Linked DNA regions of Homo sapiens: region 1 is linked to region 2. Evidence: fine-mapped expression QTL. A gene starts in region 2. The other region holds a variant in brackets. All regions are shown on one strand. Distances are between the middles of the regions. Region 1 overlaps MMD (monocyte to macrophage differentiation associated). Region 2 holds the start of MMD (monocyte to macrophage differentiation associated).

Evidence for each region. PIP is the estimated chance that this variant, and not a neighbour inherited with it, causes the effect.
Region 1: its variant is the best candidate, but not a certain one, in a credible set for the expression of MMD in cerebral cortex (GTEx, PIP 0.63).

What each region holds. Positions count from the first base shown.
Region 1 is chr17:55,391,169-55,395,696 of GRCh38, reverse strand. MMD (monocyte to macrophage differentiation associated) reads left to right here. Exons shown (of 7, transcript NM_012329.3): 7 at 1,163-3,075. The coding sequence ends at 1,363. Among named protein-coding and RNA genes, the nearest start is that of MMD, 28 kb to the left of the region's middle. The variant A/T (reference allele first, on the strand shown) is at 1,867.
Region 2 is chr17:55,419,461-55,423,460 of GRCh38, reverse strand. MMD (monocyte to macrophage differentiation associated) reads left to right here and starts at 1,626. Exons shown (of 7, transcript NM_012329.3): 1 at 1,626-1,791. The coding sequence starts at 1,766. RefSeq lists a silencer at 1,226-1,685.

The sequences.
Region 1 (4,528 bases), 28 kb after region 2:
CATTTGGATTGGCTCCTTCCCCATCTTTTGATCCCACACAAAACATGGGGGCTTCTGTGAACTTTGAAAAAGGACTGAAGCTCACAGCTGGCCCTAGATCCTCACACCTGGTCCTTAGCTCATGATGGTCTATTGTTGCCTTGCTTTTAGCCGAGGGCCTTGGGGCCCATTCTAATCAGGTGCCTGAGTTAGAGCTTCCCTTTACTCTTGCGGGGCACACAAGGCTGCTGCCCAGTGCCCAGGCCTCTAGGACACCCACACACCTATCCCCTTCCAAGGCCCTGCCGTGATCTGCCTTAGGTTTCCATTCACTCTGCAGAACCTGTCTCCTTTCTATTCCTAGTCCTCAGAAATCCAGGGGACTAACTTGTTTCTTCATCAGCTTCTAAGCATTGCCTCTATTCTCTCTCCTCATTCATACAAGCCATTTTAATCTTGTAGATGGGCCTTGGTCTTTGAAAACCAAGAACAGCCTAAAAAATTCTCCCTTCTGCCCTAAGACACACAAGAATATTAACTTATTGCTAAGCTAAGCAATGGCCAGGCTCGAATACAAAAAGGCCTGGAGACATCTAGAAGGCTAGGAAATATCTTGTACTATGTGATCTGTGATTTCAGAGGTCACTTCTAGTTACGGTTTTCCTGTGTCAGCCTTAAGGAATCTATAAGCTCACATAAGCAGGGGAAGTCTCAAAGCAGCAATCAGTGTAGAACAGTGTTTGAGAAGGACAAAGGGAAGTAAATACCCTGCCTGAGATGTAAATTATAAATAGAGTGGCTTGGGCCTGCCTTAGTAGGGAAGGAAGCATTTAAAGGGGAAGATGAGAACAGAGGATTGCACTTTATTAAAATGAACTCCCATGTCTGGCTATGATTGCAGTTTGCTTAAATATGCTGTAAATGAGCAGAATGTTCTGCTTTTTCATTTGGGACCTGTAATGTGATTGCTTGCTCAACTCAAGAGTGTCAGTCCAAAGGGCAATCCAGGTCGATGTATAAGAGACTTTTTTTATGTTTGGTTCATGTTTACAGATCAGGATTGTGTTCACACAGCTTCTTCATTGTCTAGAAAATCAAGAGCCTTAGAGAGAATTACAGTTATCTGTAGCTTGCCATGCAGAGTAACATCAAACCCTTTTTATTTTTTTTTCTCTGTTGACAGAACAACACCGATGGACTTCAGGAACTTGCCTGTGGGGGCTTAATTTATTGCTTGGGAGTTGTGTTCTTCAAGAGTGATGGCATCATTCCATTTGCCCACGCCATCTGGCACCTGTTTGTGGCCACGGCAGCTGCAGTGCATTACTACGCCATTTGGAAATACCTTTACCGAAGTCCTACGGACTTTATGCGGCATTTATGACCAATCTGTACTAATTCTCCAAACCAGTATTATTTCAATTATGGCACTTGGGAGTGGGGTGAGAGCTAAACATTGCACAGGGAAAGAAAAAAAATAACTGCACTGACTTTATATCTTTTGAATATAATTACTGTGAAAGTATAAAGGCTGTGTTCTGGAATTTTCTGCCTCACAGCAAATAAATAAGGTAGTGAATTAATTATTCATTCCATTCCACTATCATGAAGGACTCTGAATAGACTTGGCCAACTGATGTTTACAAACCAGACTTTTATATTTTAATTTTACAGATTTTACTACATGATTTTTCTAAATTACTATGTCAGGTTGTAAAAGTCAGTGCAATAACAAACCTTCCTTTTTAAGAAGAAAATTGTTTCTATTACTTTCCCATTCACTAGGTAAAGAATCATGGACAGAACTTACACTACTTTTTACCATGTTTCATCTTGGCATAACATGGTTCTTTTTTAAATAGAAACTTTAGTTTTTTGTAAATTTTT[A/T]AAAAAATATTTCATTGATATGCATCTCTGCAGGTCCTCATTCATGTTGTAAATTTTTGCAGCAAGCAGTCAACATTCCACAAACGAACAAACATTATACCTCTTCTGATAGTTTTATTAAGCATGGAGAAATTGCCAATTTTTAAAAACTGCAGTTTTCCAAACTTTTCTGCCAACCTCTTACTCTGAATTCAGTGCTGCTTTGGGACATATACTTGACCTAGCTTGGTTTACCAGTGATGGAAAAGTATTTTGATATCATTAACTTTTTCAAAAGATCCAACTTTTTCTCTATGCCTTTGCCACATTCTCTTCAGGGTCTCTTTCCACAGTGGATAAATGTTTTTTCTGTATTATGACAGTATTGTTGTGATGGCCATCTGCTGGAAACTCCTGAAGAGCATTATGTATTACAGTGAGCAGTTGTATTGCCTGTTTGGTGCCCAATGGTTAAGTCATTGTCACTTAGCTTTATATTGTCAGTTTGATATTTATTTTAAATTGTGGAACTAGATGCATAAATTCACATTTCTGCCTTTCCTTTGCATCTTCTCATATATTGTGTTTTTTTTTTTTTTTCCTAGAAAAAATATTTAAAGCATTGTTTGACAGGTAGAAACTCATGTATCTGTAGTCCATGAGTTATATCCTGGCTCAGTGGAGTGATATTTATGTATTATTTTTACTTTTCTCTCAGTGTCTTATATTAAGATTAACATGTTGTTAATAGTTGCTTTGTTGATTAATCTCTCTTGTTGGTGTTTTAATAAATGAAATAGGCTTGCCTTTAGATCGGGTGCTGATATTGCCTGTTTCCTAGTAATGGGCTGATCAAATGATCAGTGGAATTCTTGGTTTGATGATAACCTTATTAATTGAAATTTTTTACTGATGTGGCTTTAAAAGAGGTTTATTTTGTATATGTTTAGAACTCTCTGATTTTGATGAATTATATGGGAATGAGAAACAGAAGAAGTGGTATTTGCTGGCGAGTTAAATAGGCAAGGTACCCAGTGATAACACCAACCAAACCACTCCTATCTGCATGATTCTGAACATCTGGATGCCTGTTGTTTTACTGTGTATATTTTATTTTTAATATATTAACTTTGTGGATTCATTTAAGGTCTACTCAAAAGTAACACTGTCAAAACCACTAATATGTATGTAAAAATTGTGCTGTATACTACAATAAAGTTGTTACTTGGATTTGTTCCACTGTCTCTAAATTAGATGACTGTGAAGAAAAATGAATACACCCTGTCACTTAGAACTTTCTAGTCTACTTTTTAATAATTGAAATGCCAGAGTCAGCTCAAACATTAATCAACAGACATTTTCAGTTTAAAATACACTAGTCAGGACCTAATGATTTCAAGTTTTTTAGATGATGCATCCTTACCAAGGTAAGCCTTTTGGTTTAGCATATTTAATATTCTATAGGACTGAGGTGACAGTCTTTTATGTTACCAACCAGACAAGTAGCAGATTATAAATCTTAACAACTCTCCTAGTGTTAGATGCCATTCTACCTCTTCTGTAGTGTGGGAAACCAGGGCCAGAGAAGTTCAACTGCTTCATCCTAAATCAGGGAGCTGGAACAGCAACCAGCTCTATCTGATTCCGAAGCCTCCCATTGACTATACCACTGCATTTCTAGAGTCAGCAGAAACAAATAAAAAAACTTGAACTAAAAATTCATCAGGCATGGACACAGAAAAGAAAACACTATTCACATGGTTTAGAACCTCAATAATCCCTCAGATAACTCTCTGTCAAATCTAATTTTGAAGATTGAGTGTCTTGAAGCGTTATGATTCCCAAGAGTTCTGTCCTTTAGGTCACCAGTGTGACCTCATCCATTTCTAGAGTGTCCCCACTATTGTGCTGTCAGCTTCTTGGTCAGTATCTTCAGCCTTAAACTATTTTCTAAGGACTAGACCTCTCTCTAGTCAACTGCCTAAATGCTCCCAGACATATTGACTCAAACCGTCCCAAACTGATTTCATTATCTTTCCTCATCCTACCACCAAACCTATTTTCTGAAATTTCCTAACTTAGTTAATGGCATGGCCACAGCCATCTGTTCATTCATGCATCCTTGATTTCTTGCACCCCCCAGATGCAACAGGTCAGCCAGAACTGTCACCCCTGCCTTTCTCACAACTCCCTGGTCTGGTTCCTCACCTCTCTTCACACTGCAGGGTCCTAAAAAGACCTACTTAGCACTCATCAGACTACAGCAGCCACCTCCTCATTTGTATCCCTGCCACTGCTTACACCCCTCAAATGAGCTCATCCTCCACACTGTACCAGCATTATCTTCCCAAAATAAAATCTGAGCATGTGTCTCGATGCTCCAAAACTTCCACTGACTATTATCCTATAAGATTCACGCCAGATGCTTTAGCATGGACTCTTCACATGCTGACTCCGCCTGATCGGCCCTCTCCCCAGCTGAACCCCACTTGACATCAGCCCTGCTAGTGATTTTCACAGCCTCCCCCACAACACACATGCCCTCATGGTGCTTTTGCAGCTGTGTTTTTGTACCTGCTGTTCCTTGGCCTGGAATGCCCTTACTCCAGCCCCTTTCCTACCTGGCAAATAGTTGCTTATTCCAAGCCTTCATCAGGTGCCACCCATCTCCCTTGTGCCATTG
Region 2 (4,000 bases):
GTTTTGTTTTGTTTGTTTTGTTTTAGAGAAGTGTATTGCTTTAAAACAGGGAGAGATAGTCTGACGTACTGAAAGGAGGTGGGTCTTTAAAGTTAGCGAAAGGTAGGTAGGAGCCTTACTTTTGCCTTTGGCAAGTTTATTGACCACTATAAGCCTCAGCCTTATCTGTAAAATAAGTTGGATAATGCCCATCTGGAGGAGCTCTTGGGAAGATTGAAGCATGGAAAGCACCTCTCTGGAAGGTTCAAGGAAAGGGAACTAGAATTATGGGTGACAGAATTCCCTGGCTTTCCAATGCTTTACTGTAGGTCGAATGAGCACTCCTAGCAGGCTGGCCTCATGCCACTTCAGAGTCTCTAGCCTGCAGGCTGGGGGCTGGGTATGGACACGATACCTGGAAGGGAACACATATAACTTCCATCAGTGATCCTGGAAAGGCTCGACAAATCACCCATTCATTCATTCTGTGTGTATGTGTGTGTGTGTGAGAGAGAGAGAGAGAGACAGAGTCTCACTCTGTCACCCAGGCTGGAATGCAGTGGTGCAATCTCGGCTCACTGCAACCTCTATCTCCCAAGTTCAAGTGATTCTCCCATCTCAGCCCCCCGAGTAGCTGGGATTACAGGAGCCCGCCACCACTCCCGGCTAATTTTTGTATTTTTAGTAGAGACAAGGTTTCACCAAGTTGGCCAGGCTGGTCTCGAACTCCTGACCTCAGGTGATCCGCCCACCTTGGCTTCCCAAAGTGCTGGGATTACAGGCATGAACCACAGCACCTGGCCCATTCATTCATTTTTATTTGAACTTCTCTTCCAGGAAGCCCTCTGAGTTTAGGTTTAGCGACAGGACCCTGATTCAAGTCAACTCGTTTATTTGAAAGCTGCCTGGATAAAAATAAAATAAAATAAAAAATAAACTGGAGGATAACATAAAAGGATCCTTGCAGAGGATTCCTCCTTTTGTGGATCTCACTGAATCTCAGAGTTAGAAGACGCTCAGAGATCTCAACTCCCTCAAGGGTCAGACAAGGACAGGTTTTTCATTCTGCCCTGGATCCTCTCACAATAGCCTCGCGGGAGCTGGCCCTCAAAATGATGAAGGAATAAATGAAAGGAGGGATGGAGAAATTAATGATGAAGAAAAAATGAATGAGGTAGGGCTGCTTGTTTGCTGCTATTTTCTTCACAATGCTTTTAAGATTTCCTGGTCCATCTCCTCCTTCACCACTTCTCTCCCTCCCTCGATCTCTTCTCCAACTTGTCTCTTACAGAAGGGCGCCGCGTTCCCGCGCTCCTCCCCTTCCCCTCGCCCCGCCCCTCCCCAGCGAGGCCCCGCCTCGCTGCCCGAGCCCGGCGGGAATGAATGGCAGCGTAGCCGCCGCGCCGCTCGGGGTGCCGATTGGCTGACCGGCGCGCTGACGCGCCGGCGACCGCGGGTGCACGCAGGCGAACAGAGCCGGCGGGGGCGGAGCCGGGCTCCGGGGCGGGGCGCAGGAGCCCCGGGGCGGAGGAGCCGGGGAGGCGGGAGGCGGGAGGCGGGAGGTGTTGGGGCCGTTGAAGCGGCCTCCCTCCCGCCCCCAGCCGCCCGGTCTGGCCCCAGCCCTGTCCCGACCCCCGGCCTGGCCCACTCCGACCCTACCCGGCCGAAGGGTTCCGCTGGACACGCAGGCGGCCTCCGGAGCAGCCCAAGCCCATGAGGGCCGCGCGCCCGGCCGCCGGTGCTGACGAGACGGAGCTCCTGGCCCCCGAGGAGGAGCAGAGGATCAATGCGGTTCAAGAATCGATTCCAGCGGTGAGAGGGATGGCGTCCCGGTCCCGCTGCCCGTGTCAGAAGCGGGTTCCCAAATCCCGCCGTTAAGCGCACGGCTCCCGGCTCCTCACCTGGATTCATCCTGGGTGGATCCCGCACCTTGGCCAGGGATCAGTTCCCTGGGGATTCCCCACCCTGCTGTCCCTGGGCGATCCCCTTCCTCCAAGGATGGGAGCTCCTGCCTCACCCGGGTCTCCCCTCGCGATCTGCGGACCTCAGATGGATTCCCGGCCCCGGGACTCCAAGCCTGTCCTCCTTCCCGGGGATCCCTTTGCTCCTGGGGCTCACCCTCCCGACCCCCATACAGGCTGGGCTCTGGCTCTCTCTGGGAACCCGAACCCCAGCCCCGGGCACCGCCCCCGAGTCCTCCGACCTGGCTTTGGCCTCCATCCCTTTACCTCCAGGGTGGGGGTCTCCCGGGGCGCGCGGAACGGGGTGGCGCCCTGCGGAGAGATTTGTCGTAAAGCGGGGTGCTAGGCATTTTGGGTGCTTTGTGAACGGCCCTAGCAACAGGGAAACTGAGGCACGCTCCGCCAGCTTAGCCCTGCCTGGCCGTGTAGGGGCCTTGCTGGTTCTCCAGCTGAACGTCCCAGGGCGGTGCTATTTTTGGGCTCTGCGAAGGGGCATGTTAGCTTTCGGGTGGCGAGACCTGCTGTGGAGGCGCCGGTGTTAGGAAACGAGGAGGAGGAACCGTGGAGGCGCCACCGGAAGGCTGGCCGACTGCTCATTCACTGTAGAGCTGGTGGAAATGCCGGGCTGGGGGGCGCCGTGGCCTTACTCCCCTCTGGGGCTCCACCGTCTAACAATGGATGGAGGTTAGCCCATGACTCTGAGAGGAACTCCGGGCTTTTCTTTTCTGTTTAAGTGGGTGAAAGTTCACCTCTCCAGGGCATATGGTAACTGCATCCCTTTGTGTGAATTCCCGGACCTTCACCACCAGCATGTTTGCTGGGGGTGCAGTGACAGGGGAAATTTTAAGAAATGCATGAAATCTTCCAAGAAGGTTGTTGAGTTTTTAGACACTACCTTTTATTTCAGAATTTTAAAGTACACATTTTTTTTTTCTTTCCAATCTCCATGCCCTCACTGCCCTCTCACCCATCTCATTCCTCCCCCAGTCCCAAAGGGTAAAGGAGGCAACAAATGCACAGAAGAGTTGCCATGGTCTGGGCCACCAGGAAGGGGATCAGCTTGAAGACTTGGATTGACTTCTGAATATATTGCTTATCAGTCAGGGTGTTGAATGCTTGGCACTGTTCCCCCAGTGGAACTTCATACCGGTGTGTCTAAGGGCAAAATGGAACCGTAGTGTTCTGACTTTAGAACCTGATGTCAGAAATGAAGACCGGAGGGGCTTTTAGAGAGAATGTAACATGCACTCCAGTCATGATCAGTGAAGCCCTGTGCATGCGGTTTGATTTGGTTTTACTTCTCTACACGTCTGTGCTCTTCCTGTTTTCAGAGAACAGTGGCAATATTCTGTGAAATTGCCCCTTCCTTGTTTGATTAAGAGTTTGTCATTCTTACCTATACCTTTGGATCCTCTAAAAAGAAAAAAAACAAACAAACCCTGTTCAATTATTTGTTGCACAAACGTTAAAACTGTTAAAACAACAACAACAACAACTTCATTTAGGATGCTACCCTCTCAGCTTATTGAACTGACTTTTTAATTATTTTTGCTGGACACTGATCTCTCCATTCCTTATTAGCACAGTTGTAATGTGATTTTTGCGCTATTATTCACTTAAAAACTAAAAATACAGGTATTTTCTTTTGGTGTGGCATAGACTGTAATTTTCTTGGGGGCTTGTGTGTTTCTCAATGGATATTTAACAGTTTCTTTCTTGATGACATCTAGATCTACCCTGATTTTCTTTGAAGATTTGTGTGATCTCATAATTTCTTGGTTTTCTATCATAAGCTAGGTTGGAAACATAGTTCTAAGCATCAATTTTAACTTGGAAATAAAGCCTATAAACAAAAAGTAATGTAATGAGAATGTCCTGATTTTTGTGGTTCACACATTAAAATGCTGAGAGTAGTACTATTCTGCATCTTTTAATGCTGTGTTCATGATATATCTTTCTGAGCATTCCCAGGTAGGTAAATTGCAAAGGAACTGGAGGGAGAGACACACTGTCTTTGAAGGGAGACATGCTTCCTCCCTCCTGATAGATTTATTGGGACT